5 separate regions of the Homo sapiens genome follow, and regions 2, 3, 4 and 5 are each reported to be linked to region 1. The links are microRNA targets in miRTarBase. Many come from high-throughput screens and were not tested one by one. Region 1 holds a microRNA gene; each other region holds the end of a gene's coding sequence.

Region 1 (5,127 bases):
AGAATCGCTTGAACCTGGGAGGCGGAGGTTGCAGTGAGCTGAGATCATGCCACTGCACTCCAGCCTGGGTAACAGAGCAAGACTCTGTCTCAAAAAAAAAGCCAAATCTGTAAACTTTCTGAAAACATTATGAGATTTACACACAGACCTACCTACCTTCCTTCCTTCCTCTCTCTCTCTTTCTTTCTCTCTCTCTTTCTTTTTTCCTTTTTTGTTTTTTTTAGTTCATCAGCTATCATAGTGTTAGCGTATTTTATGTGTGGCTCAAGACAATTCTTCTTCTTCCAATGTGGCCCTGGGAAGCCAAAACATTGGACACCCCTGGTTTAGGGCCTTGTGCAGCACTGAACCACAGATGGGACTTGGTGACAAATGACACGAACAGAGGGACCCCTGAACTCCCCCTCTTCTGCTGGGCCAGGGAATAAGCCTACATTCTCCTGAGCCCCTGCCTGGTCAGGTGGGAGCTGGGCACCTGCGGTCAGCTGGCGTTTTCTCTCTAGAGTTTTAGAAACTCTTAACACACCTCTTCTCCTGGCACATTTTACTGGCTGGAATCCCAGCTGCTTTGGGTGTGGGGTTGGTGGCCGGGGAGCCTCCGGGTTCAGTCGGCCTGAGGTCTGGAGGGTGGAAGGGGTATCTTAGGGTCCCCTGGGGTGCAGCAGGGCCTGGGCGGCACCCCTGGCTCCCATTCCAGGGCTGTGTCCCGTAAAACTCGTTCCATCCACTTCTGCCTGCCCCGTCTCCTGCTGAGCTTGACGTGCAGTGCGTGGGGTGAGCTTTTCACCCCCTACCACGGGTGGAGCCCGAGGAATCGTGGAGGGAGCTTGGTCTCCCCGAGGTGCTCAGTGAGCTGTGGGGACTGAGGGCGTGAGCTGTGGGGACCGGAGCCCTTCAGGGCCCGGGTGTGACTGAAGGCGTCAGTGTCGGGGGTTTCCCCAGGATACCTGCCATCGGCCTGGCTTGGTTGCGGTTGTGGCTGGGGGGTCTGTGGTGAGCTGTGCAGGTCAGGGGTGGATGGGCTGCCGCTTCCGCTGCCTTCCCCAGACCCCTGCTGTCTCCAGAGCTTGGATGCTCCCCTCAGTGGCAGCTGGAGCCCAGGGCTTTGGACCGACTCTTCATACCGCAGATGCCTCTGAGCACCGTGTGTTCGGGCCGTGTGCACTGTGCCTGGCCTGCGCCCCCACCGAGGGCTGCTACTGGTGTAAGCCGGGGAGGCCGAGGCAGCGTCTGGGTGGGGTTCGCCCGTGGGGGCTGCTTCGTGTCCCCAGGTGCTGTGGTGACTCTGGGAGCAGGGCATCCCTCTGCCGTGATGGGGCCCCTGTTCCACTCCAGGGCTGCCCGCCGTTTGCTGTGCACTCACTGCCCTGTTGGGCTCTCTCTGTGGCTGTGCTGCCCGCACAGAGCCTTGTGTGAGGGCCGAAGAGGAGCCTGTGTCCACCGCTGCCCCCACCGCCGAGTGTGGTGCTTCTGCGTGCAGCCTGGGGCGGCCGCCTCTCTTCCTGGATCAGCAGCACGTCCTTCCTGCAGCTGCTGTCTCTCCTACCTACCCTGCGCCCCCTTCCCTGTGCCCCCTTCCTAGGCCTGCGTTTCTCTCTCCTGTTACTGATGCGGAGACAACACCCTTGTTCTCCTCCGTGCCCCTCCTGGGCGTGCCCGTTTTGCACACGGCTCACAGCGTTATATGGGAACTCGGGTTTTCTGCAGTGCTTGATGGAGCCTTAGGGGTCGGGGGGTCTGGGGCATCTGGCTCTCCCAGCATATGTGTTGGGAGAGTCGCCGGCTTTGCGAAGGCCTGAGAAAGGCAAGGCAGGCCGGGCTGATGAGCAGGAGGGCGGGCAGCTGTCCCGCGGGAACGCAGGCCTTGTTCCCATCAAGACTGCTGGGCCAGGCCCAGCGCGGTGGCTCACGCCTGTAATCCAGCACTTTGGGAGGCCGAGGCGGGCGGATCACGAGGTCTGGAGATCAAGACCATCCTCGCTAACACGGTGAAACCCCGTCTCTACTAAAAAAAGAAATACAAAAAATTAGCCGGGCATGGTGGAGGGCGCCTGTAGTCCCAGCTACTCGGGAGGCTGAGGCAGGAGAATGGCGTGAACCCGGGAGGCGGAGCTTGCAGTGAGCCGAGATCGTGCCACTGCATTCCAGCCTGGGCGACAGAGCGAAGACTCCGACTCAAAAAAAAAAAAAAAAAAAGACTGCTGGGCTCGAAGGCGTGTCCGCCTGGTAATGGGTGGGCTGGTGGGGAAGGGGGCCCCCTGCAGACCTGGCTGGTGGTCCTGGGGAGCCCGTCTGACTCTGGGAGGAAGGAACCGGCCCAGGCCAGGCTTGGGTCTGAGTTCCCGGGCAGGGACCGGGTCCTATGTGCGTCCGCGTGGGTGAGCTCCCCCTCGCCTTCCAGGGTAAGCAGGAAGAGAACGACGTGGTGGAGAAGCTGAACCTCTTCTTGGATCTGCTGCAGTCCTATAAGGTGAGTCTTGGCTGCTCCTTGGCTGGGGGCAGAACTTTCAGGAATGATCTTAGGATCCTTCAAGGGTCTAACTCCTGGGGGACGGAAGAGGAGCTGAGAAGCCAGGGCTGCAGGGGAAGACGGGGCCTTCCGTCTGGCGGGGGTGCTTCCCTCGGCCGGCTCCGCAGGGCCCTGGCGCAGGCATCCAGACAGCGGGCGAATGCCTCCCCCGGCCCCGCAGGACCTGTGCGAGCGGCATGAGAAGGGCGTGTTGCACAAGCACCAGCGGGCCCTGCACAAGTACAGCCTGATGAAGAGGCAGATGATGAGCGCCACCGCGCAGAACCGCGAGCCGGAGTCCGTGGAGCAGCTGGAGTCCCGCATTGTGGAGGTGGGTGGCGGGGCGGCCGAGCAGGCCCGTGGGAGCCTTTCCCCTCCCGGCCATGGTGGGACCCGGAGCCGTCCTGGTGGGCTCCCCTGGGTTGGCTCCTTGTGTCTGGAACAGAGCTGGGGGTGCAGTGGAGGCAGGGAGCTGGCCCGCGTGCCCAGAGCGATGCGGCTCCCTGCACGGTGCTCCCTCCCCGGCCCTCTCTTACCTCGCCACCTTCCAAATGCCTGGTGAAGGCTGAAGGAGAAGGGGCCGCCCTGGCTCAGGGAGCACGCTGGTGTTCGGGCCTTGGTGCTCCCGTCGCCGGCTGGGCCGGGTGCGAAAGGCGGCTGTTTGCTCCGCAGCAGGAGAACGCGATTCAGACGATGGAGCTGCGGAACTACTTCTCCCTGTACTGCCTGCACCAGGAGACGCAGCTCATCCACGTCTACCTGCCCCTCACCTCCCACATCCTCCGCGCCTTCGTCAACTCTCAGATCCAAGGGCACAAGGAGGTGAGTCCGCCCTGCTCCGGCCGCCGTCTCGGCCACGGCCTTTCTTTGTCCCTCCGCCCTTCCTTCAAGCCCGGCAGCGCGGTGGCCGGCCGCCCTAGAGAGGTTCTTTAGTGGAGTTGGGCTCCGCATGGGCCTTGGAACACGGTGCTCGCCCGGATCTTCTAGTCTCCTGTGTAGCCAAAATCAGAATCGTGAGGGTGTCCCTGTGATTCCTGGGGGGCGGAGGGAGGAGCAGACAGGGAGAGTTTGCCTCCTGGAGGGATTTGAGAAGTCGGAGGTAAAGCCCGCAGAGCTCCCGCACCCTGCGGCTGAGAGAAGGTTTCTAGCGCTTCGGAGCGCCGCAGGTGGCTGTTCTTCCAGAGAGCCCTGGCCGGCTTCCTCCAGAGCAGATGGCGGTTCCTTCAGCCTGGGAGAAGAAACGCTCCCAAGGTCCTGGGACAGGCCTCCGTTGATTTCTGGTGGCCAGCTCACTGCAGCACCGCTGGGATTACAGGCGAGCACCTTGTGCCCGGCTGAAATTAAGTTTATTAAGTAGCTGCAAGTAGCTTTCAAGCCATGGTCTGTGGTGTGTGTGGAATGGCACCGAGTGTCTGGGGTGGTCACGAGATTCCACACTGTCCCCGGGAGGTGCTTGGTGCCGTGGGTGCCGTCCAGCACTTTGGGAATGGCAGGCTGGAGGCGGCCGTGGTGGGGCTGGAGAGGCGGTAGACAGCCGCCGTGTTAGGAGCATCACTGTGAGATGGCCAGGGTCTCAGGGACCAGGTTGGACTTGGACATGTGAGTGGCCGGGTGTGTCCTCAGTGAAGGAATGGGACCAACAGGCGCCCGGAGCATGATGCCATAACCCCAGTCCTACCAGGTTTTTTATTGTGGTGGTGAGGAATTTCCAGCCCTGTGATGCTGTGTGCGCTGTGGTCCAGTGACTCAGCCTCCCCTGCAGGCCCCCAGGGTGCGCCCTGCCCTTCTCTGGCCACCTGAGCCCCTGCACGGCAGGTCTTGGCCTGACCCCTGCCTCACTGCCGCGCTCCCCTCCTCACATCCACAGCATCCGTTCCTTGCCCTGGTTCCAAAAGTGCTTGGCGAGTGGGGCCGCCGTTTGCATTCCGGTTTGGGTATTATTGATTTGGTGGATGTGGTCTTTGTGTTTTTGGTTTGCTTTTTGGTTTTGAGGTGGAGTCTTGCTCTGTCACCCAAGCTGGAGTGCAGTGGTGCAATCACAGCTCACTGCAGCCTCAACCTCCCGAGTAGCTGGGACCACAGGCAGGTGCCACCACATCCGACTCATATTTCTGATTTTCTGTGGAGACAGGGTGTCCGTGTGTTGCCCAGGCTGGCCTTGGTGTTTGACCTGCCAAGGCTTCCATGAGGCCAGTGCCCGCACGGCAGCTAGAGCATGTACTGGCAGTGACGCGATAGTAACGTTTCTCACGATTCCACGGCAGGCAGATTTGCAGCCCTTTGGTCCTGGGTGCAGGGATCGAAGCGTGGGTGTCTGTGACCACAGGTCACATGTCGCTGGTCCACTCCTCATTTGGGCTTCCTCTGTGCAGGATGGGCAGCACTGGTTCTGCCAGAGGTTTGAGGAGCTGGCGCACCTGAGGGCCCCTCCCTCCCTGTCACTGGCAGGCGAAGGAACTGGGATCAGAGCGTGAGGAGGAGCCCCGGCCCCGCCTGCTGATCTTGTTCTCTTCGCTTCCCTTTCAGATGAGCAAGGTGTGGAACGACCTGAGGCCCAAGCTCAGCTGCCTCTTTGCGGGACCACACAGCACCCTGACCCCACCGTGCTCCCCGCCGGA
Region 2 (5,127 bases), not on the chromosome of region 1:
TTTTTACATAAATTTTGGATATTAACCTCTTATCAGATATATAGTTTGCAAATATTTCCAATCCATAGGTTGCCTTTTGATTTTGTTGTTTCCTTTGCTGTGCAGAAACATTTTGGCTTAATGTAGTCCTATCTATTTATATTTGCCTTTGTAGCGTGACCTTTTAGTGTATTATCCAAGGAATGGAATTGTTGCCAAGGCCAATGTCAAGGAGCTATGTTCTCTTCTTTCTCCTATGTTTTATTCCAAGAGTTTTATGGTCTTACATGTAGGTCTTTTATTCATTTTAAGTTGATTTTTGTATATGGTGTAAGATAAGGATTCGATTTTATTCCTTTACATGTGGAAATACAATTTTTTTCTAGCACCGTTTATTGAAGAGGGTACCCTTTTTCAATTGTGTCTTTCTGGTGTCCCTGTCCAAAATTAGTTGGCCATATATGCTTGGATTTATTTCTGGACCTTTTATGCTATTCTATTTCCAATAGGCTTGCACACTTTTTCATAAATGTTTAGTCATGTGACTTTAGTCCTTTGAAAATTATATGTTCTTGGTGTTCCCCAATAGTATATTGAATCATGTATTCTTTTTTCATAGACATAAGAAATCTAAATATGTATGTCTTCTAAAGTTTATCTTGTATTTTGTAATTTAAAATATAACAATAATTTATAATTTTTTTCTGAGTGGATGTCATCTGAATTTTAAATATATGTATATTTTTTATTTCAATAGCTTTTGGGGTACAAGTAGTTTTTGGTTATATGGATGAATTGTATACTGGTAAAGTTGGAGGTTTTAGTGCATCCATCACCTAAGTAGTGTATATTGTACCCAATATGTAGGGTTTTTTCCCCTCCCCTTCTGAGTATCTAATGTCCATTATACCACTCCATATGTTTTGTATACCTGTAGCTTAGCTCCCACTTATAAGTGAGAACGTACAATATTTGGTTTTCCATTCCTGAGTTACTTCACTTAGAATAATGGCCTCCAGCCAATCTAAGTTGCTGCAAAAGACATTATTTTGTTTCTTTTTATGGCTGAGTAGTATTCCATGATGTATATGTACCACATTTTATTTATCCACTGATTGGTGGCGGGGCACTTAGGTTGGTTCCATATTTTTGCAATTGTGAATTGTGCTGCAATAAACATGCATGCAGGTTTTTTTTTTTTTATATAATGGCTTCTTTTCCTTTGGGTAGTGATATGGTTTGGCTGTGTCCCCACCCAAATCTCATCTTGAATTGTAGTTCCCATAATCACCATGTATCATGGGAGGGACCCGGTGGGAGGTAACTGAATCATGGGGGCAGTTACTCCTGTGCTGCGGTTTCTGTGATAGTGACTAAGTTCTCACGAGATCTGATGATTTCATAAGGGGTATCCTCCTTTGCTCAGCACTCATTCTTCTCCTTCCTGCCATCATTTGAAGAAGGAAGTATTTGGTTCCCCTTCTGCCATGATTGTAAGTTTCCTGAGGCCTCCCCAGTCATGCAGAACTGTGAGTCAATTAAACCTCTTTCCTTTATAAATTATTCAGTCTCGGGCAGTTCTTTATAGCAGTGTGAGAACAGACTAATACAGGTAGATACCGAGCAGTGGGATTGCGGGATTGAATGGTACATCTGCTATTTTCTCTACTACTCTTAATTCTTTGAAAAATCTTCATACTGTGTTCCAGAGAGGATACAACAGTGTATAAGTATTCCCGTTTCAACACATACATGCCAACATCTATTTTTTTTGACATTTTAATCGCCCTTCTTGCACTTAAGCATTTTTTCATATGTTTGTTGGCTGTTTGTACATCTTCTTTTGAGAATTATCTATTCATGTCCTACCCACTTTTGGAGGAGATTGTTTTTTTCTTGCTGATTTGAGTTCCTTGTAGATTCTGGATATTAGTCCTTTGTAAGATGATGATTTGTGAATATTGTCTCCTACACTGTGGGTTGTCTGTTTACTCTTCTGATTATTTCTTTTGTTGTGAAGAATTTTTAAAATTTAATTAGATCCTATTTATTTATTTTTGTTTTTGTTGCATTTGCTTTTGGGGTCTCAGACATAAATTCTTTGCCCAGACCAATGTCCAGAAATGTTTTTGCTAGATTTTCTTCTAGAATTTTTAGGACTTAAATTTAAGTCTTTGATCCATCTTGAGTTGATTTTTGTAGATGGCAAGAGATAGGGATTCAGTTTTATTCTTCTATATGTGGCTATCCAGTTTTCCCTGCACCATTTATTGAACAGGATGTTCTTTCCCCTATTTATGTTTTTGTATGCTTTGTTGAAGATAGGTTTGTTGTAAGTATGGGGCTCTATTTCTGGGTTCTCTATTCTGTTCCTTTGGTCTATGTGTCTACTTTTATACAAGTACCATGCTGTTTTGGTTACTATAGCCTTGTGGTATAACTTGAAGTTGGATAATGTGATGCCTCCAATTTATTCCTTTTGCTTAGTATTACTTTGGCTATGCAGGCTCTTTTTTTTTTTGGTTCCATGTGATTTTAAAAATTGTTTTTCCTAATTCTGTGAAAAAATTATATAATTTATAAAATTTTAAGCTGTTGCATATTCCTTGCTTCAACTTAGAATACACTTACAAAGAAGAAAGTTAAATAACTTTGAGGTCTACCATGAAAATTTAATGTTTTTAATCATTTTGTTGTATATTTTTATAGCTTTCTCCCATAATTTCTTGGGTTTTCTTCACAGAAGGCTTAAATGAGTAGTCAAGTATATATATGTTTATTTGGAATTTACTTTCCTATTAATAACATGTTTTTCTTTTTTGAATTTTGGTAGCCAAGGCTCCTTTGAAAGCATGGTTTATTTGTTCCATTTAACTTGTTCTCAGCTATACTGAAGTATGATTGACAAATAAAACTTGCATATATTTGAGATGTACAGTGTGATGATACATGTATGTATACAATGTGAAATGATTGTCATAATCATAATCAATAATTGGTATATTGGTTTAGGAAATGTGATGGTTAATATTGAGTGTCAACTTGATTGGATTGAAGGATGCAAAGTATAGTTCCTGGGTGTGTCTGTGAGGGTGTTGCCAAAGGAGATTAACATTTGAGTCAGTGGACTGGGAGAGGCAGACCCACCCTCAATCTGGGTGGGCACCATCTAGTCAGCTGCCAGTGCAGCTAGAATAAAGCAGGCAGAAGAAGATGGAAAGGGCAGACTTGCTGAGTCTTTCAGCCTTCATCTTTCTCCCATGCTGGATACTTTCTGCCCTCAAACATCCGACTTCAGGTTCCTTAGCTTTTGAACTCTTGGACTCACACCAGTGATTTGTCAGGGGCTCTCAGGCTTTTGGCCACAGACTGAAGGCTATATGGTCAGCTTCCCTACTTTTGGGGTTTTGGGACTTGGACTGGCTTCCTGGCTCCTCAGCTTGCAAATGGCCTAGTGTGGAACTTCATCCTGTGACCGTGTGAGTCAATTCTCCTAATAAACTCACTTTTATATACACATATATACTATTATTTCTCTTGCTTTAGAGAACCCTGACTAATACAGGATATAAAGTTGAATTGTTAGTCATTTATTTCTGATTAGTTGGCTAATGCTATTTATTCCATAATTAGGTGTTTCCTCTAAGAATGTACAATACTGAAATTGTTACACATTAAATGTTATACATACTAAAGTCTACTTTTGAATTTCTTTGTTTTGTAAATGCATCTGCTAATAATGTTATGAATATTACAACTTATGATAAAATTCTGTGCATGCTACCCCACTTACCTGACAGCTACATTTTTCACTCCCTGATCTTCTTTTTTCTGAACCAAATGTCTACTATTAATTCCTAGATAAATTTGAATTTATTTTAAAGTTTTTGTAAAAGTAGCAGATTTTTCATTGTAATTATCCCACCAGTTACTCTATCAAATAATTGAAGAAGACACATTGTGTTTAATAGTACTCAATCTTCCTATCCAGAAACTTGCTAGGGACCTATAACTACATAAATAGTCTATTATGATTGATTTTAAAGTGTTATATAATTTTCTTCAAACTTTTTCTTACTATTATATGTAGATAGCTTATATTTAGTTATTTAGTACCACAATTGTGAAGTGAATCTACTGACTCACTATATCTTGTTATTTCTTTTCTTTTCTTTCTTTCTTTCCTTCTTTCTTTTTTTTTTTTTTTTTTTTTTGAGACAGTCTCGCTCTGTCACCAGGCTGGAATGCAGTGGCCCAATCTTGGCTCATTGCAATTTCCACCTCCTGGGTTCAAGTAATTCTCCTGCCTCAGCCTCCCAAGTAGCTGGAATTAAAGGCCTGTGCCACTGTGCCCAGCGAAGTTTTGTATTTGTTTTAGTAGAGACAGGGTTTCACCATGTTGGCCAGGGTGGTCTTTATCTTCTGACCTCATGATCTGCCCGCCTCAGCCTCCCAAGGTGCTGGGATTACAGGCGTGAGCCACCGCACCCAGCCTTGTTATTTATTTTCTAGATTTTGCTAGTGTCTAGGAATAGTCCTGATTGTTCCCTTCATCTGGCTCATTGATCGGCAGTCAGCTCCTGGAATTCCTTAAAACTGCGTCACTTCCACTCTCGGATCCTCTTGCTTTGGTTCTCTGGGGTCTTTTCTCCTAGAACAAATACAAAGAAACCAACAAAAAATCACAAAAATGAAAAGACATGGACTAAACATGTAAGTCCCGCATTCTTTAAGGAATGTTGATTCTTTGTCCATTAGTTTGGTAAAAACCATATCTCTGCCCCCAAGGGATTGAGTAAACCTTGTGAAGTAAAAGATGAAGCTCCCAGACTAGGATCTGGGAAGGCAGCTTGGATACTTTCTACTTGTCATCCTTGGACGCCTTGGTGCAAGCTTGTCCAGCCTATGGCCCACAGGCTGCCTGTGGCCCAGGATGGCTTTGAATGTGGCCCAACACAAATTTGTAAACTTTCTTAAAATGTTATGAGATATTTTTGTGATTTTTTTTTTTTTTAGCTCATCAGATATTATTAGTGTTAGTGTATTTTATGTGTGGCCCAAGACAATTCTTATTCCACTGTAGACCAGGGAAGCCAAAAGATTGGATACCCCTGCATCTGCATACTCTTCCACAAATTCTTCAGTGGC
Region 3 (5,127 bases), not on the chromosome of region 1:
GAGGATCACTTGAGCCCAGGAGTTTGAGACCAGCCTGGGCAACTTATGAAGACCCTGTTGCCAAAAAAAAAAAAAAAAAAAAAAAAAGCCAGGTGTGATGGTGCACACCTGCAGTCAGCTACTCCGGAGGGCGAGGTGGGAGGACCACTGAGCCCAGGATTCAAGGCTGCAGTGAGCTGTGATTGTGCCGCTGCACTCCAGCCTGAGCAACAGAGTGAGACCCTGTCTCTAAAAGAAAGAAAGGAAAACATTCAAGGCAAGGAATCAAGAAACCAGCAGATGGTGGCGATTGGCTTTGAGCAACACACAGAGTCTTCCTCCAGCTGAACTGGAAGGTCAGCGTCTGCCCGGTCAAAGGCATGGAGACCGGTATGCCTGCCTCTCACCGTGGCCCACACGGCGATCTTCCTGTCACCTCAAAGGGCACCAAGGAAGAGCAAGGCAGCCCCTGGGCACCAGCGAGGCTCTGGAAGGCTCCTGTTGGACCTGGCCCCACGGACAAGGCCGCCCTGTGACGAGGGGGCAGGACAAGAAAGAGCAAGGCAGCCCCTGAGCATGCACAGCGAGGCCCTGGGAGGCTCCTGTTGGACCTGGCCCTGCGGACAAGGCCGCCCTGTGACGAGGGGGCAGGACAAGAGCAGGGTCCCCTCTGCACACAGGTGGGAGCAGTGCCCACCTCCCCGACGACCAACACTCCCCATCCTGCCGGATGTGAGTGACTGCCACTTTTTACCAATGACGCCTTGCACCTTGCTGCACTTTTCTCACCTTCTAGATAAGAATTATTAAGATAGTAAGTCCCGGAGTCACCCCTGCTTCCTGACAGCATCGAACAGGGTGCAGCGGTTGCCGTGAATATTCCCTAAAACCTCCACAAGGCTGCCCAAATCCCGCCCATCCTCCCTGACTCCCCAGCACCCTCTCGATGGTCGGAGGCTTGGTGCTGCAGCAAGTCAGGGGCGTTCACGGTGGCCTTTGGCTAACAGCCTTGACAGCACCTCTGGGCTGCTGGGAAGTAGCCGGTCACCTCACCTAGAAGAGGGTGAAGGCTGGAGCAACAGAACTGCTTTGGGACTAGGTGGAGTTTGGAATCCCTCTCCACAGTGGCTCAGGGCCTCTGTGCTCCAGCGGGGTTTGCTGTCATCATGGGAATGTAGAGGAGAAAAACCAGTATCAGCTCGAGTTCAGCACTGCGGCAGGGTAGGGACAGTGGTTTTATTTTTATTTGAGATGGAGCCTCACTCTGTCACTCAGGCTGGAGTGCAGTGGTGCAATCTCAGCTGACTGCAACCTCCACCTCCCAGGTCCAAGCAATTTTCATGCCTCAGCCTCCTTAGTAGCTGGGACTATAGACGTGCACCACCATGCCCGGCTAGTGGTTTGTATTTTTAGTAGAGACGGGGTTTCATCATGTTGCCCAGGCTGGTCTTGAACTCCTAAGCTCAGGCAATCCGCCTGCCTCAGCCTCCCAAAGTGTTAGGATTACAGACATGAGCCACCGCGCCCTGCCAGGACAGTGGTTTTAAAAGGCAGGTGCCAGCCTTTCTTAAGAGAAGAAAGTGTGTAAGAATCTGTAGATCTAAAGCAACAGGCCACACCTCTGAACATGACAAGAAAATGACAAAGTTTCTCTAAGGTTTAATTTATATTTATGTTTTTTGTATATTCACCACCCAAACACACAGTCTTCTACTTAGTCCGGTCTGTATTAGGTTTCGTCTGTTTTTGTTCTGCCTTGGTTTGCTGTAGCACTTTCTGCCGTGAGCGTAACTCACTTCCTTGTAGGAGTTTCCTGAGGCTGCCGTAACAATCGCCACAAACCTGGTGACTTAAATAACAAATATTTATTTTCTCGTAGCTCTGGAAGCCGGAAGTCCAAAACCAATAACTTGGCAGGGCTGTGCTCCCTCTGGGAGATCTCGGGGAGCCTCCTTGCTACATGTTCCGCTTCTGGGGACTTCTGGTGGTGTTTCCCTGGAGGGCCAAGGCCTCCGGGCGGCCCGTGCATTCGGTGAACACCTCCAAAGAGCTCTGAGTCACAAAGCCTTGGGAAACTTTATTTTATTCTTTCTAGGACATTATCAGTAGTCCCGAGGAGACATCAATTACAAAACAAGAAAAAGGAAGGAAGAGAAAAATACAGGTTTGGCCTGGTTTAATGTTGCAATGGGAGGATCCATTTCCTTACCCTTCACCATCAGCGAGCTGGGAACGGAGGGAGAAGAGGCCCCTCAACGTGGGTTTCTTCAACGTGGACTCTCCTTTCTGTGCATCTCAGTGTCCTTGTGTTTGCAGCTGGGAGGTCGGCCCTGTCGTTCTCACCCCACCTGTGGCACAGCAGAGAGAAGGGTGCACAGGTCTTTGCAGCGTGCCTGCACGAGGCTGGCCACCCTCTCCAGACACTGTCCCCTCAGGGTTCACCTTCTGCCCACAGACCACACCCCTGCCTCCCCGTGGACTTTGTCCCCGTGGCTGCCGTGCCCAGGTGGCCAGACACCCCCAAGCCTGGGTCCACCCGCAGGGACCAGTGCTCCTCTCTCCTGTCTGGGCCTCGGTTCCACCATCTCTGAATACAGGCTTTGCCCCTGATTCTAGGGTCCCTTAAATTTCTTTTTTTTTTTTTTTTTTAGATGGAGTTTCACTTGTCGCCCAGGCTGGGGTGCAGTGGTACGATCTCGGCTCACTGCAACCCCTGCCTCCCAGGTTCAAGTGATTCTCCTGCTTCAGCCTCCTGAGTAGCTGGGATTACAGGTGTGCGCTGCCATGCCAAGCCAATTTTTGTAATTTTATTAGAGACGGGGTTTCATCACGTTGGCCAGACTGGTCTTGAACTCCTGACCTCTGATCCGGCTGCCTCGGCCTCCTGAAGTGCTGGGATTACAGGTGTGAGCCATCACACCCAGCTGGGTCCCTTAAGTTTCTAAGAATCTACAGATCATCAGCAGGAACTAGGAACATCTGGGTATTTTCTCGCTTCGTTTTTTTGGTTTAGTCCCTCATTTGCGACCCCCAGCCACAGAGAAACGTTCAACAGTGTGACCAGGGAAGAGAGCGGCCCTGGAGGTCTTTGCGGTCAGCCCTGCTCTGAGGCAGTCGGGGTCAGGGGCTACATCTTCATGCGGAATTCCTGACAGCCCCTCGGAGCTCCTCACCGAGGCTCAGGAGCACGGCTCTGATTTCTCAGACAGGCACATGCCTGGGTGCCAGCTTTTAACTCTCCGCTCTCTCCTCCTCTGCACTTCTGTTCCGGAAAAGGAATCCTTTCTCAACAGGCGACAACAGTTCAAGGATTCAGCCTTGTTGCCAGTGTCGTGTATTAGCTCCGATATGTGATGTCTACACCAGGCAGTGGCGCAGTGAAGTAAAGGGCTATAAGAAATACACAAAATCTGGCCGGGCGCAGTGGCTCACGCCTGTAATCCCAGCACTTTGGGAGGCCAAGGTGGGTGGATCACCTGAGGTTAGGAGTTCAACACCAGCCTGACCAACATGGTGAAACCCCATCTCTACTAAAAATACAAAAATTAGCCGGGCGTGGTGGTGCACCTCTGTAATCCCAGCTACTCGGGAGGCTGAGGCAGGAGAATCGCTTGAACCCGGGAGGCGGAGGTTGTGGTGAGCCCAGATCGTGCCATTGTACTCCACCCTGGGCAACAAGAGCGAAACTCTGTCTCAAAAATAAATAAATAAATAAATACAAAATTCGAAAGAACCGGTCGCCAACTCTACCAAGAGAGAAACAACTATACATTTTATTGTTGAGAAACATTTTCCTAAATAAGTGTTTTCACTTCATTCTTTACTGAAACAGCTCTTCCTTGACATGTCGAAACTGTGCTGGCTGTGTTCAACATAACTAGAGGTATCTTTGGCATTTTCTTCCCTTAGCTTCATAACTTGTAGAATATCTTGTACAAAAAACTGTAGATTTACAGAAAAATATGCATATAAATCACTTATTAATCCCAAAATGTAGTAAATAACTAGCAAAAACTTTATCAAATCCATTTCATACACAAACTGGACAGATCAGTTGCACATAACCTCTACATCTGCAGCGTTTTATAAATTGGCGCTTTGACATTGAAAAGGAGGTTTACAAAAAGACCCCTCTCGTAATATCAGTGACTCTAAATTATCCCGCTGCCATTGCTTCTCAAATTCCATTGAATTTATACTAATCACTCCAATATCACCGTTCTTACAAAAGCAGTTATTTTAAGGAAAAAGTTGCAGTGCAATCATGATAAAGTAACATTCAGAATTTCATGTTACCAAGAGTCGAGCAGAGTACTAATTTTCCCTTTACAAACACACATCGAAAACAAGAGCTTCATGCACATCCACGTAGAAATTCGAAGTCCGACGGGGTAGTGTGTTTCCATCACACGGAAGGCGTCGCACACATTCGCAAGCAGCATTCGCCGAGAGGAACCGGGATCTGAGATGCATCCACCAGCTGCCGGGGGTAACGCCGAGCTTCTCCTGGAGAGATTCCGCCGTGTTTCTTTCAGTGCCTTCCTTAAGAAATTTTGCAGCTGTTTCTGGTGCAGTTTTTGGGGGGGCTCTGGGGGGGGCGGACGAGCTTCACTTTGCGGAGGCTGCTCCTTTTGTGGGTGGAGCTGGTGGTGAGGGAGTAGGAACCGCCGTGCATCATCCTGGCATTCAGGCCGTTGGCCATCGAGAAGGACTTGAGGTGGCTTCTTAAGGCAATGGGGAGCGGGAGCTTGTCCACCAGGTGCACCGGCGTGCAGGACACGACCGCCCGGCAGCAGAGGTCTTGCAAGCTCAGCACTTGGGAGAGAAAAGATAAACCTTGCTTAGTGGATGTCCCCACCTGGGCTGGGAATGAGGGGTGGTGCCCACACCTGTTCTCCCGCCCTCCCAAGGCTCGGACGCCCGTGGCCCTGGCTTGTACATGCAGCAAGCCCTGCCGCGACGTCCCCTCTGCCCACGTACAGATCCCAGGAGCTCCCTCATGAGCTTTCTGACAAAGCTGTAGTCATTACTTCTCTCAAATGCCTTGCTCTGAGAACGGACACAGTGGCCTTGAGACGGGTCCCGGGAGGCAGACACTTATCCAGGGGGCCGCTGACCCACCTCGGCATCTGGAGGGCAGAGGTGGCC
Region 4 (5,127 bases), not on the chromosome of region 1:
GATAAAGCTTTTAGGGTTTTCTATATATAAGATCACGTTGAATGCAAACAAGGACCATTTGGCTTCCTCATTTGGAAGGAAGTATTTGGATGCTCTTTACGTCTTTCTCTTACCAGGCTGCTCTGGCTAGAACTTCTGCAGTGCAGCTTTGAGAAGGCTGAGGTGTTGGGTCTGGGGCATGGTAGAGAGATCCATGTAACAGGAAGAAAGTGGCAACCCAGGTCCATGCCTGAGTCTCCTGGTGAGACACGGAATCCCCCCAGCAGACTGAAGTGACCAGAAATGCCCCGAAAGAGGATGGCACTGCCCTTGCTTCCAGGCTGCAGTCTGCACCTGGCTGAGCTTTACTGTCCGTCTCTCTCCCACCCTGTCTCAGCCTTTGCTTCCATTCTGCAGTCTGCACCTGGCTGAGCTTTACTGTCCGTGTCTCTCCCACCCTGTCTCAGCCTTTGCTTCCATTCTGCAGTCTGCACCTGGCTGAGCTTTATTGTCCCTGTCTCTCCCACCCTGTCTCAGCCTTTGCTTCCAGGCTGCAGTCTGCACCTGGCTGAGCTTTACTGTCCGTGTCTCTCCCACCCTGTCTCAGCCTTTGCTTCCATTCTGCAGTCTGCACCTGGCTGAGCTTTATTGTCCCTGTCTCTCCCACCCTGTCTCAGCCTTTGCTTCCATTCTGCAGTCTGCACCTGGCTGAGCTTTACTGTCAGTGTCTCTCCCACCCTGTCTCAGCCTTTGCTTCCAGGCTGCAGTCTGCACCTGGCTGAGCTTTACTGTCGGTGTCTCTCCCACCCTGTCTCAGCCTTTGCTTCCATTCTGCAGTCTGCACCTGGCTGAGCTTTACTGTCGGTGTCTCTCCCACTCTGTCTCAGCCTTTGCTTCCATTCTGCAGTCTGCACCTGGCTGAGCTTTACTGTCCGTGTCTCTCCCACCCTGTCTCAGCCTTTGCTTCCAGGCTGCAGTCTGCACCTGGCTGAGCTTTACTGTCCGTGTCTCTCCCACCCTGTCTCAGCCTTTGCTTCCATTCTGCAGTCTGCACCTGGCTGAGCTTTACTGTCCGTGTCTCTCCCACCCTGTCTCAGCCTTTGCTTCCAGGCTGCAGTCTGCACCTGGCTGAGCGTACTGTCCGTGTCTCTCCCACCCTGTCTCAGCCTTTGCTTCCACGCTGCAGTCTGCACCTGGCTGAGCTTTACTGTCGGTGTCTCTCCCACTCTGTCTCAGCCTTTGCTTCCATTCTGCAGTCTGCACCTGGCTGAGCTTTACTGTCCGTGTCTCTCCCACCCTGTCTCAGCCTTTGCTTCCAGGCTGCAGTCTGCACCTGGCTGAGCTTTACTGTCGGTGTCTCTCCCACCCTGTCTCAGCCTTTGCTTCCAGGCTGCAGTCTGCACCTGGCTGAGCTTTACTGTCGGTGTCTCTCCCACCCTGTCTCAGCCTTTGCTTCCAGGCTGCAGTCTGCACCTGGCTGAGCTTTACTGTCGGTGTCTCTCCCACCCTGTCTCAGGCGCTGCACAGTAGAGGTTCAGAAGCTGATTGGACCTGAGCTGGTACCGGGACTGGGAACAAAAAGAGACAGAAACTTGTGAACATGACCCAGCAATAAGGGGTTGGGGAAGGTGAGCAGGGACTCCAGGTTCTGTGAACAGGGTCCACAGAGTAAGTGGATCGTGTCCAAGATGAGTCAGAATGTCTTTAGATGAACCTATCCTGGATGCTTTGCAAATAGCTAGGGAGAGCAACAGAAGCTACAAGTGAGTCTGGTTATGACACAGGACTCTTTCGGTGCCACTTTGCCAGCCAGAGACCTCCACGGCCGGCAACGCCCCTGCGCAAGGCCTCACGGCTCCAGGCTGTTGGAGGTACCTGCCCACTCAACCTGGGCTGGCTGTTGGAGGTACCTGCCCACTCAACCTGGCGGGCTGTGCGTGGCTTGTGCTTTGGGCTGGATCCCACGCTCGCCATGGGATCTGCACTCGGACTGCAGCTGGGCCGGGCATGCCATGACCTGCTTCCACCTTGGGTGCTGACGTCTGGATGAGAGGAACATGGTGGCGCCTGAAAAATCTGGAGACACCAGAAACCCTGGATCCCCAAAGGAAGTGTTATTCCCGCTGTCCGTGCTGTGGGTGTGAAGATGTGTGCTGCACATCCCAGTTTCCAGCACAGGACAAAGACTCAGAGAGGCACCTGCCAGGAGTCTCAGGTGATGGAACCCAGTGGCGGGCATGTGGGCAGCTGCCCCAGGTGGAAGGGATCGTGGCACAGCTCTTGGTTCCCCAGGCTGGCCCTGACCTTCGTGCTTTCCTGCCCATGGCCCAGACTTCCGAGCTCCATGTTGGGGATGCTCAGGGACAACCCTTCAGCCTCCCCCACCATGTCCCGGCTACTGCCCAGGATTCTTGTTCTCTGGAGGGTGGATCCAGCCCTCCCCATCTTGGTGCCCTACCAGGGCCAGGCTTCCCATGGCTCTTTCTGCAGCCCCTGGCACAGACTGTGGGGCGCACAGCCCGGGGAGCAGTGGGCCTTGGAGGGGCCAGGTCTGCATGTTCCCACCCCCATCATGGAGTTTGACACACCAGTGGGCAGGTAACTCAATCCCCCCTCACCTTCTCTTCATCTGTTAGGGGTGACAGGGTGCTCCCCGTGGGGCCAAGAGGATGCAGCACCCCCACCGGCTACCCTTCCGGCCACACCCTTCTCTCCTGGCCCACCTTCTGAGCTGGCAGGGCTTCCTTCCTGGCTTCTGCTGGGCAGTGTATTAGGGTCCTCTAGAGAGACAAAACCAATAATGGAGTTTAGGAGAGGGGATTTTTATTTGTTTGAGACAGAGTCTTGCCCTGTCACCCAGGCTGGAGTGCAGTGGCTCGATCTCGGCTCACTGCAACCTCTACCTCCCAGGTTGAAGTGATTCTCCTGCTTCAGCCTCCCGAGTAGCTGGGATTACAGGCACCCAGCACCACACCCAGCTACTTTTTGTACTTTTAGTAGAGACGGGGGTCTCACCATGTTGGCCAGGCTGGTCTTGAACTCCTGACCTCAGGTGATCCACCTACCTCTGCCTCCCAAAATGCTGAGATTACAGGGGAGAGCTACCGCGCCCGGCCAGGAGAGGGGATTTATTAGGCGAACTGGCCCACACACTTATGGAGGCTGAGAAGTCCTCCCATAGGCTGTCTGCAAGCTGGAGACCTAGAGAAGCTGTAAGTGAGGCTCAGTCCAGGTAAGAAGGTGGTTGAACCAAGGAAGCCAGTGGTGTAACTCTCATTCTGAGGCTGACTGGCCGAGAGCCCTGGGAGGCCTCTGTGGCAAGCCTGAGTCCAAAGGCCGAAGAACCTGGAGTCCTGATGTCCAAGGGCAGGAGATGGGTGTCTCCCTCCAGAAAAGAGAATTTGCTTGTCTTCTCCCTTTGTGTTCCATCTGGGTCCCCAACCAAGTGGATGTGCCTGCCCACGCTGAGGGCAGATCTTCACTGAGTCCACTGAAAACATCCTCACACACTCAGAAACAATGCTTCGCCAGCTGCCAAGTACAGTGTGTGTGCCTTAGTCCCAGCTACTCAGGAGGCTAAGGTGGGAGAAACGCTTGAGCCTGGGAGCTGGAGGCTGCAGTAAGCCATGATTGTGCCATTGCACTCCAGGCTGGCTGACAGAGAGATCCTGCCTCAAAAAAAGAGATAGATAGATAGATAGATAGATAGAGCTCCACCAGCCATCTAGGCTTTTTTTTTTTAAACAGGGTGTCACTCTGTCAACCAGGTTGGAGTGCCGTGGTGCTATCATAGCTCACTGCAGCCTTGACTTCCCAGGCTCAACCCATCCTCCCACCTCAGCCTCCTGAGTAGCTGGGACTACAGCGTACAGGCACAGACCACGATACCTGACTTATTTTTAAATTTTTTGTAGAGAAGTTTCACCATGTTGCCCAAGCTGGTCTCAAACTCCTGGGCTTAAGCAAACCTCCCACCTCAGCCTCCCAAAGTGATGGGATTACAGGCAGGAGACATGGCAGCCAGCTAAGGCTCCCTGTACCCTGTTAGTCGGCTTTACAGCACCTGGAATTGACCGCCACACGGAGCCTGGCGCTAAGGCCTGGCTGTGCCCAATGGTTCTGCACGAAGACCCGGGCCGGCCTGTGGGGAGCTCAGCTGCATATGCGTCTGTGGCGCCCCCTGTGCCCTGCTCTTTGGGGACTGAGCATAGCTGCCCCTCCCTCTCTCCCTTCTGCCCGCTCCTGGACATTTCCGGAAGGCCCCAGGAAATGGTGGCTGATAGTGGTTCCTGAGGCCACACCACGGGCTGCCTGGTGCCCTTTCCCTCCCCAGTGCCCGGCTGGAGCAAGAAGCCGAGCTCCTGATGGGAGCTGGCCCTTTCTTTAGACTTTGCTTCACCTTCAGGACAGGGGGTTCTGAATTTCTGCGCTAGGGCCCCGCCGGCTTGGGTGGGCTTCCAGCGTGAATCCTCGGCCTGTCGTCCCCGTCATCAGGAAGCCCAACAGGGCGCCCGCCTGCCCTCTGTGTCCTCCCCGGGCTCGCGGCCGTGCACCTTCTGGTGCTGGATGAGGGTGGACAGCCGGCTGCAGGCCCTCCCGCAGGCGCGGCACCGGTATGGCCTCTCGCCGCTGTGGAGCCGGTAGTGCTCGTTCAGCGTGTAGCTCCTGCGGAACGCCTTGCCGCACTCGGTGCACGCGAAGGGCTTCTCCTTGGTGTGGATCTTCTGGTGCAGAGTGAGGTTGGACTTGCGACCGAAGGCCTTGCCGCACTCCGCGCACTCGAACGGCTTCTCGCCCGTGTGTAGGCGCAGGTGCAGCAGCAGCAGGGAGTTGTGTCGGAACGGCCTCCCGCACACCGGGCACTCGTGGGGCGGGTCCCCCGCCTGGGGCCTCTGCGCAGCTCCGAGCAGGGCGCCCTGCCCCACGCCGCCGTCCTGGGCACCCTCCTGCGCGTGCAGCCGGTGGTGCTTCAGGAGCGAGGACCCTCGGATGAAGCGCTGCCCACACCGCAGGCACCGGTAGGGCCGCTCCCCGCTGTGGATGCGGCCGTGCTCGTTGAGGGTGAACCTGCGGCAGAACGCCTTGCCGCACTCTGTGCACGCGAAGGGCTTCTCCCCGGTGTGGAACTTCTGGTGCTGCAGCAGCCGG
Region 5 (5,000 bases), not on the chromosome of region 1:
TGGTTTGTGTGCCTTTTGCGTATCACCTCTAAAAGTGTCAATGAATTTGACATAAATGAACAGTTTCTTCTATAAATTATCTTTTTATTTTTAAATAACACTGTAACATACTAACAGCGCACTAAGAAACATCTGTATTTCCATGATATTCAAGTTATTTAACTTGAAATTTTAAATCCTGAGCTCATCATTAGTTCTACAGAGAGATTAACTGTATTAAAATTTGTCAGTGTAAGGAAAGGTACAAAATTATCAAATATCATATTCCATATTAAAATTGAATTGCTTTAAAACATTCAAAACCACAAATATTAGACAACTACCTTCTTTAGTTTTCAATGCTTTTTCTTTCTTGTAAATTTACTAACGGACTAATCTTATAGTTGAGACCCATCATATATTAAGCCTATTGTTGGTACCCAGAGAGTGAGAGGAATGTTTTTACTTGTGTCCTAGGAATCCATGTCAGTGAACGCCTCACATGGAAAAGGATTTTCCCGACCTGCTAGACCAGCAAATCGTCGTCTCCCCTCCAGATGGGCATCCAGATCTCCATCTGCACCCCCTGCCTTGCGGAGAACTACCCACAACTATACCATTTCTCTGCGATCCGAAGCATTGATGGTTTAAGTCTTTGGCCTGGATTGCTATATTACAGAAGTTCTAGTCCCACTTGTCAAACAGAGCATTCTGAGTGTTTACAGGCGGACCTGTTCTCTTCCGACAAGCAATTTGAATCTTAACTTTCCATCAGTCTTCAGTGTTTTTAATCTAAGGAATAATTATCTTCCTGCATTTTGATTTCTTAGATCAGAATTTTTTAATGCCATCCTCATTAGTTTTCCAATACAATATAAGTTGAAACAATGTACAATATTGTATATTCTTTGTTGCAAGTGGCAGAAAGTAAGGTTATGTGCATGGCCATGTGTTTGTAGGTGCATGTGTTGAAATAGGAAGTATCCTAGTATGTATTTAGATATGAAAAACTTATGTGCTAGTGTTGACTTTGAAATTATAACATGTATACCTATATATTCTTTGTGTTTATTTAAAAGTTTTGAAAATATGCAGTACTGTTTATATTTTGTATACCTTTTAATAGGTATCCACTTAAGGCATTTGCAGTACAAATATTAATTGACCACTTCCTTGGCCCCCAGCTACAATGAAAAAGAAGAATTATGCACACATCTAACATTGGTAGATTTCTAAAGACAACTCATAAATAATTTCTTAACCCATATAAGGATAAAATAATACCATTGATATTCTTGTTTATTCTTTTTAAATAAAAATGTCACAAGTTTAATAGATCAGCCTTGTAAAGCAAGCATAAAATGTTCATAAATGTTTTATATATTATTTGGTAGTCTAGTATGGCTTTAACTGAATATTTGATCCTCAGAGACAGTATCATGAGACTGCATTATAAATGACATGATTAAATGATGAATTTATTTTGTCAGCCTCAGCAACAAACATTTCCTAAATGGGATGCAAAAAGAAACTGAATGATGTTGAATTTTAGTTTTTCTTTAAGTTGTGGTAAGCTTTTAGTTTAGCTGCTTTAACATGGAGTCATACATACTTAGAGGTAAGTCATTTATTATTTTTTTCCTTTTTCTAATCTTTTCCTTAAAATTAATAGATAACAAACTAAGTTACTTTTTTACTAACAAGGAAGATCAGGAATAATATTTCTTTGAAAGCTGAAATTATACTTCTCACAGTTTGCTACCGAAAAAAGGCTTAAACTAAACCTTGACATCCACAGTAGCATCAGGAATAGAAATGTGTATTTTGGCTACAGTTTGCATACAGTGAACACATAAAATCTATATTGAAAACTGACAGAAATATGAATGTCGAGGGGCTTGGAATTCTAAATGGAAGATTTTAGAAGGAACTTTGCTCTCTACTGTCACTATATAAAACCAATTATGTTATGTTATTAGATATTAACTCTATTTAAGCTTTTCTTTTACTAAGAAATTCTTATGCCAAATGTATTCCAAGAGCCATCTCCTTATGATGTATTTGAACCATTTAGAGAAATTCACTTCATTGTACCCCATGACCTGAGGTAAAGAAAATAATTTTCAAATTGCAGACTTCCTTGAAAGGCTCAAGACTGTAGCATGGTGATGTCTAGATTCATACTTTACTGTAAGGACAGTTTCGGTAGTTAAGTGGAATTAAAGGTCTAGAGTGATTTGTATTGGATGGTAACTAAGGTCTATACATCTACTCTTTTAATTCTTATTTCCTTCAGGAAGATCCTTTTCCACAGGAAGCTATCAAAGAAAAGTAAACTAGACACCAAGTAATATCACTCTCATAATATGCTTTCCAGCTAGAGGGGAGAAAACACCAGGAAAGAGGAACCCTGGGTCATAAAATGACGGACCTGTTAGGAAAATGCTGTTGTGTGACAATGGAGAGCCTGCCCAAGGACTGTGCAACCTATCTGTTCCTCTCCACCAGTGTATCCCAAGTAGTCTGGTATGATCTGTGGTTCCTTAGAATATTGAGGATCTCTTTAAAAAATGAAATTTCTGATCTCACCCCATATTACTAAAGCAAAATTTCCAGGGGTAGGGACTGGGACTCCAGAACCATTAATAAAACAAAACAAAACAAAGCAAAATATTGATGATCAGGCAGATTTGAAAACAGTGACATTGCTTGATCTCTGAATGGATGGATGCCCTTGGGTGGTCACTTTTCTTCCTAGGACTTGCCTTTGTTATCTGTAAATTAGAATGGCTATACTTTCAGACTTCACAATTTTAAGCCACTTTTTTCTATTAACAGTTGAATGAACCAGTGGGACACATTTTAACGTCTTCTTATGTTGACTAAAATTATAGTTAGAGCTGAGAAAAAAAAAATAGCATCTAGTCCAACTCCTTGATTGTAAAACTGAAAAACTAAGGTTATTTGAATGTTCTGTTTTCTCTTTTTAAATATTTTATAACTTTTAAATGGAAAAACCTATTAGGTAAATGGAAATAATCCTTGAAAATAGTTTTTGATGTTTTGTGATTTTTAACTGGTAAATTTCTACTTTAGGTGGGCATTTTCTTCCCTAGAATATGCCCTTTATTATGCTATCATTGCTAGATTTAAAGGGACTTGTAAGCATTTCTGGAAATATTTGATTTAAAAACATATATTAATAGATGTTTTCCCTAGCAGACTTTTGGAGCAAAAATATTATTTTAGTTCAGCAGAGGATTACTGATATTATGGGCTGATCTCAGAAAGGAATAAGGATGAGGCAGAGAGGAGTACTTGAGTTTGTGTGTGTGTGTGTGTGTGTGTGTTTGTGTCAGTGTCACATAAGTTCTCCATATTGCCTTATGTCCCAAAGCCAAATATAAAAATATAAATGATGCTTTGTATAATTCATTTTATCAAAAATTACCCATAACTTTCATTTGTTTTTATATCGACAATGAAGATGATCATATTTCATTTTGCAGATGTGGCCATAAAATATTATTTACTTCTATATAGGTGATTTTACCAGGTTTAGTTATCCTGAGAAAACATCTGGACTTAAGAGTTTCTGCTTCCCTACAAAGATCTTTAAAGTTATTTTTAGGCACATTTGTGACAAACAACTACTTGATATTGAAATCTCCTTCAGCCATTAGAAGCTATCAAATAAAGTAGGTGTAAAAACAACTGTCTGTGGCATTTGTATACATCGAGAACATTTTTCTTTCCCTCATTTTCTGCAGTGAACTCCAGTAAAGCTAAGTGTCTTATGAAATCTAAACTCATATATGTACACAGTTCACTCTAGCTTCTTCCAAAATATCTCTAGGTAGTACAACTGAAGCCAAACCTGCCTGACTTCCTGCTCCTGGCCACCCAAAACTCCATATGGCTTCTCGTACACTGACATCCTCTCTCTACCCATTTAACTGCTAATTGAGTCTGATAAAAGTCTTCTTTGAAAAAAGTTTTTACTTCTAAGATTTGCATTTACATCATAAAATTAAACCATTTTCAGGAAAATCAGATTTTTTTATTACAGTACTATTTGCTTTAAATTCGGCATGTTTTTCTTAAGTAGCAAGTACATGTATCGGAACTTAGAACTGGTGGGCGCGGTGGCTCTTGCCTGTAATCCCAGCACTTTGGGAGGCCAAGGTGGGGGGATCACGAGGTCAGGAGATGGAGACCATCCTGGTTTCATCACGGTGAAACCCCCTCTCTGCTAAAAATACAAAAAATTAGCCAGGCATTGTGGTGGTCACCTGTAGTCCCAGCTGCTCGGGAGGCTGAGGCAGGAGAATGGCATGAACCCGGGAGGCAGAGCTTGCAGTGAGCAGAGATCGCGCCACTGCACTCCAGCCTGGGTGACAGAGTGAGACTCTGTCTCAAAAAAAAAAAAAAAAAAGAACTTATAACTATGACTTGTTCATCTCACCCTGAAAATATGTTCCTACAAGAAAATGTGCTTTGCAAAGCAAAAAAGGCAAAAATTGGGGATGAGTTCTTCAGACAAGTACCAAAAATGATTTCTCGTCATTTTTATTGTATGCATATTCATCATAGAAAATAATTTTTTGTTTTATTGGGAATAAAATCATGATACTTAAAATCTGATACACATTTCAATGATAGTATTAATCCAATAGGTTAAATTAACAAATTCTTAGGAAAAAAATCTGTTTATATGAAGCTATGGAGAAATCTAGAAAGTAGGTAACGGTTTAGATTTTGAGGGACCTATGAACTCAGAACAAGTTCATTTAGAGGTGGGAAACCTGAGATTCAAAGAGGTCTGCATGGCTGCCAAGATTGCAGGGACAGAATCCAAGCCTGGGCTCACTCATGATCTGCTCTCCTGTATAAATGTCCCATGTGCATCTATGACCTTATTGTTTGCAAAGCAAATTCATATTCCACGACTTGTCTGCTTCTTACAACAAACTACAAGGCAGGCATTGTGATTTCTAAGTAAGAAGGAAAAATTAAGTAGT

Evidence for each region. The annotated mature microRNA hsa-miR-6836-3p reads AUGCCUCCCCCGGCCCCGCAG and lies in region 1 at 2,670-2,690, shown strand. An mRNA with a match to its seed (bases 2 to 7 or 8) in the 3' UTR can be bound and repressed. Matches are read on the target gene's strand: a 7mer-m8 pairs with bases 2 to 8, a 7mer-A1 pairs with bases 2 to 7 and ends in A, and an 8mer does both.
Region 2: the mRNA of SLC22A9 is a reported target of hsa-miR-6836-3p. The part of its 3' UTR that is shown has no 7-base or 8-base seed match.
Region 3: the mRNA of RAB40B is a reported target of hsa-miR-6836-3p. Seed matches in the 3' UTR shown: 7mer-m8 at 2,694-2,700 and 7mer-m8 at 2,445-2,451.
Region 4: miRTarBase lists ZNF517 as a target of hsa-miR-6836-3p. Seed matches in the 3' UTR shown: 7mer-m8 at 3,048-3,054.
Region 5: the mRNA of KIAA0408 is a reported target of hsa-miR-6836-3p. Seed matches in the 3' UTR shown: 7mer-m8 at 4,323-4,329.

What each region holds. Positions count from the first base shown.
Region 1 is chr7:2,255,078-2,260,204 of GRCh38, reverse strand. It overlaps MIR6836 (microRNA 6836), which reads left to right and starts at 2,628; the gene lies at 2,628-2,690. SNX8 (sorting nexin 8) reads left to right here. Exons shown (of 11, transcript NM_013321.4): 8 at 2,402-2,470; 9 at 2,691-2,840; 10 at 3,182-3,331; 11 at 5,036-5,127. RefSeq lists enhancers at 744-813, 1,324-1,413, 734-1,513, 1,514-2,293.
Region 2 is chr11:63,409,305-63,414,431 of GRCh38, reverse strand. It overlaps SLC22A9 (solute carrier family 22 member 9), which reads right to left. Exons shown (of 10, transcript NM_080866.3): 10 at 4,138-4,630. The coding sequence ends at 4,570. Among named protein-coding and RNA genes, the nearest start is that of SLC22A9, 42 kb to the right of the region's middle.
Region 3 is chr17:82,653,341-82,658,467 of GRCh38, forward strand. RAB40B (RAB40B, member RAS oncogene family) reads right to left here. Exons shown (of 6, transcript NM_006822.3): 6 at 1,633-4,794. The coding sequence ends at 4,523. Among named protein-coding and RNA genes, the nearest start is that of WDR45B, 7.5 kb to the left of the region's middle.
Region 4 is chr8:144,807,738-144,812,864 of GRCh38, reverse strand. ZNF517 (zinc finger protein 517) reads right to left here. Exons shown (of 5, transcript NM_213605.3): 5 at 2,781-5,127. The coding sequence ends at 4,470. LOC100130027 (a long non-coding RNA gene) reads left to right here. Exons shown (of 5, transcript NR_147501.1): 5 at 1,789-4,055. Among named protein-coding and RNA genes, the nearest start is that of ZNF517, 11 kb to the right of the region's middle.
Region 5 is chr6:127,439,739-127,444,738 of GRCh38, reverse strand. KIAA0408 reads left to right here. Exons shown (of 6, transcript NM_014702.5): 6 at 457-5,000. The coding sequence ends at 630. It overlaps SOGA3-KIAA0408 (SOGA3-KIAA0408 readthrough), which reads left to right. Exons shown (of 13, transcript NR_174482.1): 13 at 457-5,000. Among named protein-coding and RNA genes, the nearest start is that of KIAA0408, 17 kb to the left of the region's middle.